Linked DNA regions of Homo sapiens: regions 2 and 3 are each linked to region 1. The links come from fine-mapping of genetic effects on gene expression. A gene starts in region 1. Each other region holds a variant in brackets. All regions are shown on one strand. Distances are between the middles of the regions.

The links. PIP is the estimated chance that this variant, and not a neighbour inherited with it, causes the effect.
Region 2: its variant is fine-mapped to the expression of NRP1 in whole blood (TOPMed, PIP 0.99).
Region 3: its variant is fine-mapped to the expression of NRP1 in whole blood (TOPMed, PIP above 0.99).

Annotation. Positions count from the first base shown.
Region 1 is chr10:33,333,069-33,335,828 of GRCh38, reverse strand. NRP1 (neuropilin 1) reads left to right here and starts at 1,162. Exons shown (of 17, transcript NM_003873.7): 1 at 1,162-1,519. The coding sequence starts at 1,447.
Region 2 is chr10:33,505,554-33,508,313 of GRCh38, reverse strand. No RefSeq gene overlaps it. Among named protein-coding and RNA genes, the nearest start is that of LINC02628, 94 kb to the left of the region's middle. The variant T/C (reference allele first, on the strand shown) is at 1,329.
Region 3 is chr10:33,870,241-33,873,000 of GRCh38, reverse strand. No RefSeq gene overlaps it. Among named protein-coding and RNA genes, the nearest start is that of LINC02629, 33 kb to the left of the region's middle. The variant G/C (reference allele first, on the strand shown) is at 1,165.

The DNA of each region.
Region 1 (2,760 bases):
TCTTTCCCTCCCTCGGGATGCACAGAGAAACGGGGGCCGCCCGACCCCTGATTTCCACACCCCTCCCTAGCACCTGGGCTCCCAGACAAGGTTGGGCGGGGTCGGGCGGCGATTGCCCCCCTGCTTGGAAGGCGCAGCACCTCCCACCCTCCGGTGTTCCCTCTGCCCCAGAGGAACGGGCACCAAATCTCGGGAAACAATGAAGCCTCCGCGGCGCGCAGAGGGCACCCAGCCGCGCGCCCTGATGCGGGCCAGGGAGGCCGCGTGGGGCTGCAGCCCGGCCTCGCCCGCCCAGGCGGTCTGTCTTCGCTTCACACCACAGCGACACTGCTGCCCCTCGCCCGGCTTCGCGGTGCGGCTCCCACTCCAGCCCGGCTTTCCCCTCCTCGCCCTCCAGCTCTGGGCAGGGGCGTCCAGGGGTGCCCCGCTGCTCCCCGCCACAGGTCTCAGGATGGCGCGATGAGGAGTGGCAGGGGGTGACCCTGCGTTCCTCGCCGCCGAGGGCGCGGGCCCCGGGATTTGAAGTTGCGAGAAGCAGCCGCCACCTCCCGGGCGCTCCGCACTGCGCGGCGGCGGGATCTGCGCCTGCAGGAGCTGCCCAGCTCTCCCTCTAGGGGTGCAGAGCGAGCACGCGAGGTGGGCTGGCCAGACCCTGCGGCTGGCACTGACCTCCGCGCCCCTTCCTCCGACGCCCGCACCCACGCGACCGGGGCGCAGACTCCCAGCGCCTTCCTTCCCGCGGAGATCCCTGCAGGGTCTCTGGGAAAGACAGACAGACGGACGGGGAGAGCACTCGGAGGGAAAGTTGTTCCTCCCAGTCTCCTGTCAGGCAATTACAGGCGAGCCCAAGCGGGGAGAGGGGCGGGAGGAAGCGAGGGAAGGGCTCCGGAGTGGGGGGAGGCCGCAGGAGGGGAGGCGGGGGTGCAGTTGGTGAAACTCCTCTGTCTCCCGCTCATCTTTTCATTGCTCGTTCCCCTCCTTCCCGCAGACACCCGGACCTCCCCTGGGCGCCAGCTCCGCGGCTCCAACGGGTCCAGAAACAAGCCGGATTTTTTTTTTTTCTTCCTGGAAATTGGCTTTGGTGTGTGTTGCCCTACCTCCCTCCTCCCCCTCCCACCCACAGCCCCCCCCCGGCCTTTTTTTTTTTTTTTTTTTTTTTTGAGACATGGCCCGGGCAGTGGCTCCTGGAAGAGGAACAAGTGTGGGAAAAGGGAGAGGAAGCCGGAGCTAAATGACAGGATGCAGGCGACTTGAGACACAAAAAGAGAAGCGTTCCTCTCGGATCCAGGCATTGCCTCGCTGCTTTCTTTTCTCCAAGACGGGCTGAGGATTGTACAGCTCTAGGCGGAGTTGGGGCTCTTCGGATCGCTTAGATTCTCCTCTTTGCTGCATTTCCCCCCACGTCCTCGTTCTCCCGCGTCTGCCTGCGGACCCGGAGAAGGGAGAATGGAGAGGGGGCTGCCGCTCCTCTGCGCCGTGCTCGCCCTCGTCCTCGCCCCGGCCGGCGCTTTTCGCAACGGTAAGTGACAGGCAGAGGCGCGGGTGACAGCGGCGCCCCGGCTCCCAGCTGCCCGCCCCGGACCGGGGCTCAGGCGGGGCTTCCCGGGATCAGCCGGGAACAACCGACTCCCGGGCGAAGGAAACTTTTATCTGGGAGGAGAGAAGAAGAAATGAGATCAGGCGGTTTAGAGCAGGAGGATTTCAGGTCTTTGGGCTCCCTCCTGACGTTGATCCTTGGGCTGTGGGGCTTTTCCTTACCTCTGTTACAAGACAGAGCTGTCTACCTTCCCAGATCAGCATGCCAATTATCTTAATAATGTTTCCTCCCAAAGGCAATTAGAAGAGACTCCCTTTCAAAAATCTGATGGCTGTTGAAAGTTAATGAACACTTTACCAGGAGATCTTACTTCCTGGTTCCTTTGCTGCTCCCCTAAGCCGTTTCCTCTGGTGGGTGACGGCCAGAGATATCGGTTTGTGGGTTGATGAAACTCCCTCCCCCGCCTTTGTACACCTTCCGTAATCTGTCTGGAGTATGACTGAAAGTTACATAGTATCAATACAGGAATCTGACATATACAGTGTAAGGCACCAGGATATCTGAAAATCCCTAAGCTAGTTGCAGCTTCCACTTAGCTTTTAAAATCACTCACTGTTAAGTAAATGAAAAACTATACTGGGGTCTAAACAGTACCATGTAACCTAAATAATGTGTTTTAAAATGGGATCTGGTTGTAGGCATGTTTGACTTCACACTGTAAAGTAAGTGCAGGCAAGGGTATGCAATTATCTTTACAGTAAGTCGTCAGCAATTGTTATTAACTAATGATCAAATATTTACTTTTGTCTGGCTTAGATTTCAATCACAGTAATTAGAAGAAAAGAACATCCACTACTTACTGTGGTATATTGTTTTAATAAGAGACCGCAAGTGGAGGGCCTCATACCAACAGGAATTTAAATCACATCTTTATGATGGAAGTTAATCTCTCTAATATGCTTTTTCAAGGTTTTGTGATTTTAGCAATGGATTTCCCTCAGCAGCTACCAAGCAGTATTTTAAGAGATGCTTAAAGCAAAACACATGCAAAAAAAAAAATTATGAACATGGAATTCAGCTTATTAATGAGCCCAAGTTGATGGCATTTTTCTATAATCTGGCAGGAAAGCAAGACACAAAAAATTATGAATGTAGAATTCAATTTATTAATGAACCTGAGCTGGTAGCATCTTTCTATACTCTGGCAGGGAATGAAATAGCAT
Region 2 (2,760 bases), 170 kb before region 1:
ACTTCATCTGATAGGAGAAGGAAAGTATTTAAACATCAAAAGAATGGGAAATGATGTTTGTGCAGTTATGTTTGTGAGTGTGAGAGTGAGTAAGCGTGCAGCATATTGTAAAAATAAGCGAAAGGTGATGTGGCAAGAGTGTGTTTTGAAATATTTATTGAAGCTTTCACTCTGTGTTTTGCCTTGACCTTCGCCTGTTCAAAGAGGTATCAAGGTCCGTGCTGTGGTAGGGTTCCCTACTGTAAAAGCTGTCAAAATTCTGAGTCCATTGAGAAGATCGGTGGCTTAAGAAAGAGTGCAAAGTGCAGCTCTCTCACGGGGAGAGAAGAGAGAGTAAAAGACAGAGAAGGAGGGAGGGAGGAAAGAAGAGGAGATTGCATTTTCTCAGAGCAATTAAGATTTCCCTAGTCCAGGCCAGACACAGTGGCTCACGCCTGTAATCCCAGAAATTTGGGAGGCCAAGGCAGGTGAATCACCTCAGGTCAGTAGTTCAAGACTAGCCTGGCCAACATGGTGAATCCCCGTCACTATTAAAAATACAAAAGTTAGCCAGGCGTGGTGGCGCATGCCTGTACTCCCAGCTACTCTGGAGGCTCAGCTACTCTGGAGGCTCAGGTAGGAGGATCACTTGAACTTGGGAGGTGGAGGTTGCAGTGAGTCGAGATTGCGCCACTGCACTCCAGCCTGGGCAACAGAATGAGACTGTCTCAAAAAAAAAAAAAAAAGAAAAAAAAATTCCCTAGTCCAAGAGTATGAGGATCTGCTCCTGCTCCCTGAGGCCATGGCGGGACCTCAGGGAAGGTGAGTGTGTGATACACCTGGGGAAGTGCCCCAAGACTCTTGGTCCCAAGCTTGGTACAGAAGCCCACAGAACAGAGATTATCACGTGGCCAGGGACAATGTGCCTCTCAACAGGCATCAAACAGAGGGGCCTAGTCTATCCAATATCTTGACATGTCAGGCAGATCCCCAAGCCCTGCTCAAATCTGCTGAAGATGGTGATAGAGAAACCTCAAGAATGGTCAAGCTTTTATTTCCTCCAGCCCAGTGGGAAAAGGGCTTAGAGAGGATATTACATTGATTTATGGAAAATAAAGCATCTGAGTTTATAGACTAAGATTTATACCTGCTACAAAAGTATGAATCCTTTTATCCTATACATATATATACACATATATACTAGAGGGCACATGCTACTGAGACATATTGCTTGGGTTCAGATTTTGCAACACTAACTAGCTGCGTGTGATTTTAGGAAGTTTCTTAACCTCACTGGCCTCAGTTTCTGTGAAACTGAAATTAATCATAGCACCAATTTCACATGGTTG[T/C]TGTAAGAATGAGATGAGATCATCTGTATCTTTGGCACAGAACAAAGGCTGAACAATGATAAGCTATCATAATAATTATTATTATTATTTATTTTTCTTCCATAAATGTCCCAGTCACTACCTAAATGTGAAGGAGAGATCTAGTCCTAAAAAAAGGTTTCCATTGACAGCTCAAGTTATTCGTGGATTTTCTTTCATGATAGCCTTAAGAAATAAACAAATAGACAAAAGTCTCTGTTTTTCTTTGGCCCCTAGGTGACCACTAAATTACATGTGAAACAAAACATGTTCAAGAGAAATGTCCCTGGAAGAAAGGAATTTTTCCTAAATCTTAAATAGCAAGTTTCTTGAATCCTAAATAAGGGTAGTGTCACGCCTCTGCCAAGTAGGAATGTCAGTATGGGGGTAGGAAGTCCAGCTGTATCCTCCCATCAAATGGAAATTAGTTGGATTCCTGATGCTAAGGGTTCCCATGGGCTCTTCATATGACAGATAAGAGGACGAGGGGGGTGAAGAATTATTATTTATAAATAACACACCAGAGTGCCTGAGGTTGGCCAACCTTAAATTCAATGTTCAAAGTTTGGAGCAGGTGTCTACAAACTTTTATCCCTAAGCCACACTAAGAGGACTATTTATGAAATACATCTGTATCCTTGGATGGCTATGACAATTGGTAATGGTCATTGGGGTATTATACGAAATATGTTTGGTCTTTGTTCCCAGTTCCTGACATGGGGTTCCTAAAACCCCTGGAATCTTCTGAGTGATAGGACTATTTTTGTTATTTATAATGAAGCCACTTGATCACTTTCTGAGTTTATGGTAAAGAGATTACGTAGGGTGACACCCCTAGATAGTCTCTGTATGGAGCCAGTCAACAGAAAGACAAGGTGATTAGAGGATTAGAAGGTTGGAGCTGTCAGCCCCACCTACTGATAGCTGGTGGGTTGGTGGGGGGCAAATAGAAATCAAGCTTCACAAAAACTTGAACAACAAGATTTGGTGAGTTTCCAGTGGCTGAATACAGGGAGGTACTGGGAGGGTGGAGCCCCAGAGACGGGGTGGAAGTTGTGCACCCCCATAACTCACGGTATCCATCTCTTCCTCAGCTGTTTATCTGTATCCTGTGTAATATCCTTTATAACAAACTGGTGAACATAAGTAAGTGTGTTTCCCTGAGTGCTGTGAGCCATGCTAGCAAATTAAACCCATGGAGGGAGTAGTAGGACCCCCGATTTATAGACGGTTAGTCAGAAGCACAGGCGACAATGTACTAACCTTGCAATTGGTGTCTAAAGTTGGGGAAGCATTGTGAGACTGAGCCCTTAACCTGTGGGGTCTGACACCATTTCCAGGTAGATAGTGTCACATTGAATTAAATTATAGGACACCTAGTTGGTGTCCACTGAAGAATTGCTTAGTGTGTGGG
Region 3 (2,760 bases), 540 kb before region 1:
CTACCTCACTTACACATTCAGAATTTGGGTTCAGTTAAAGAGCGAGACACAGACAAGCCACCTGCCCATGGATAACAGAATACTCTGGCTTCCTTATCTCCCCTGCATTTCTCTGCTTCTGTTTATTGCTCCATTTTTCTTTCCGTCTCCTGGGAAGAATAGCTCAAGATGGTGATACTCTTATTTTGTTAAGTTTTCTCTGTTTTAGCAGAGCTCAGTTAAGGAGCTCAGCTCTTAGGTTTTTTATTTTAAATTGCTTTACCTTTGATCTGAATCTTGGCTTTATTTAACAGATTTAAACTACAACATTAGAATAATAACTCAATTCATATGGGAGGATTTTTTTGCCTCTAAAACAAGAATCCAATGGAAAGACACTGCTGTACACTCCCTAGTATGATTTGTTGTATGAAAGCTCTCTTTCGCCAACATTAATGTCTGCATTTCAAAATGACCTTTATTAGGTGTTTTCAAGCTGTGAGTCCTCTTTCCAACCTATTAGCCTAGCTTTAAGAGAAAATACTTTTGAGTAGGGGAAACCAAAGCTCCCAGACTCTCCATCTTTTGATTTGGGGTTCAAATAGTTAGGATTGAATCCAAAGTAGAAAACAAAGTTTTAGCTTAGCCATTCTTTCTTCTTTCTTTCTTTCTTTTCTTTTTTTGAAATGGAGTTTTGCTCTTGTTGCCCAGGCTGGAGTGCAGTGGTGTGATCTCAGCTCACTGCAACCTCCGCCTCCTGGGTTCAAGCTATTCTCCTGCCTCAGCCTCCCGGAGTAGCTGGGATTATAGGTGCCCACCACCATGCCCGGCTAATTTTTTGTATTTTTAGTAGAGATGGGGTTTCACCATGTTGGCCAGGCTGGTCTCGAATTCCTCACCTTGGGTGCTGGGATTACAGGTGTAAGCCACTGCACCCAGCCAAGCTTAGCCATTCTTTAATTACTTTCCCCCTCACCCTTAGAAACCCCAGAAATAGAGCTACAAGAAGCTGTGTAAGGATTGGAGTGACCTGTTGGCCAATATCTGTAGTTACATTTAACTTGACATTCTCCGGGCTGGGTGATTCTTTCAATAAAAGTCCCTGTTTGAAAACCTGGTGGAAGAAGGGGATGTCTTTAATTTGTCCCCCAGCACAGTTTATTTTATATGTGGTTACTGGTAAAG[G/C]TATTAACTGTTGTTATCAAGGAGTTGGTTTTCTCTTGCTTATCTACTTCCTCTGCTTCAGGAAACCTCACTTCTTATTAGTGAAAGTGTACTCACTTAAACAGAGGCTTGGGGAGAAATTTGTGGTTTTCAAAGATCTATCTCTTGACCTTACTGCTAAATGTTTTTACTAAATCTTCCTACTGACATCTCTTCCTGATTTCCAGTTTCACTAGTCAAGCTAGCATCAGTGCACCTTAGGGGGAGGGGTGGGGCTGCCTGGAACATGAAGATGAAAGATTACCTTTCCTCTGTTATGTATCCCTTCTTTATTGTTGCACCCAGTCCACTCAGATTCTTACATTACAACATTAGGACTCCCTAATGAAGCCAGGAAGGAGATTTGTAATCTGAGGATATGGTCATATGACAGGGTGGACAGTGTGCATACCATCCTACCATGTGTCTCAGGGGCATGGGTCCAGCCCCATCATCAGAGGGAGAGGGCGCAAACAAACCATGATAGTGGTTGACAAGCAAATGCGGCTAAAATGAGCATCAAAAGCAGTGTTGGTGGAGAAAGAAGTAATACAAGGCAGCCTGCCAGAGGGGTGGTCGAAAGGGCTTAGGGCTGCATCCTTTCTCCTTTCATGAATTTGTGTACGTTTCTGCTAATTCAAGTGAAAGAGCAAGGGTATACCAGCTGGTTGTAAACAACATGTATATTTCCACCTCATCAACATGTATATTTCCACCTCATTTGCTTTCCCCATGGGAAGGCATATAGAGAAAGGGGAAGGGGGCAAGGTGGTAAATAATAGAACAAGAGCGAAGGAACTGATTCTTGGTTTTTATTTTATTTTATTTTATTTTATTTTAATTTTATATTTTATTTAATTTTTGAGACAGGGTCTCCCTCCCAGGCTGGAGTGCAGTGGTGTGATCACGGCTCACTCTAGCCTCCACCTCCTGGGCTCAAGCGATCCTCCCACCTCTGTCTTCCAAAGTGCTGGGATTATAAGCATGAGCCACCATGCCAGTCCCCCTGACTGTTTAAAACCCCTGGAGAAGGACTTGGTTCTGGTGTGGCTCCCCTGTATTCTCACGGCTATCTCCACAGCCCCCATGATAGCAGTTCCTTCCAGCTGCCATCTCCCATTCATCCAACAACATTGTCCTTAGAGGAAGGCCAAGCTCCTCTCCACTGTGCACAGGCCCTCATGACGTGGCTGCCCTTCTCTCCACAGCTGACTGTCCCCACACTGTTCTCTCAGGCACAGTCACATCCAACTGTCCTCCAGTTCTTCCTCACCTCCAGGCTTGTCCTCACCTCCAGGCTCCTATACATCCTTGATATTTCTTCTCCTCCCACAGCCCAGATCAGACCACCACTTCTGTTTTGCCTGGGGAAACTCATAAATGTGCAGTCCTCTCTTAGAGATTCTAATTTCAAAAGATCCAGAGAGAGATCCTGGAATATGTAGTTTCAAAGGCTTCCCTGGAAATTCTGAAAAAGCAGCTGAGCTTAGGAAAGATGTGTAGATATCCCTTCTCTGAGAACCTACCTTGGTCTGCCCCTCCCTCCAAGTCTGAGTTAAGTTCCCCTCCAAACTGCAC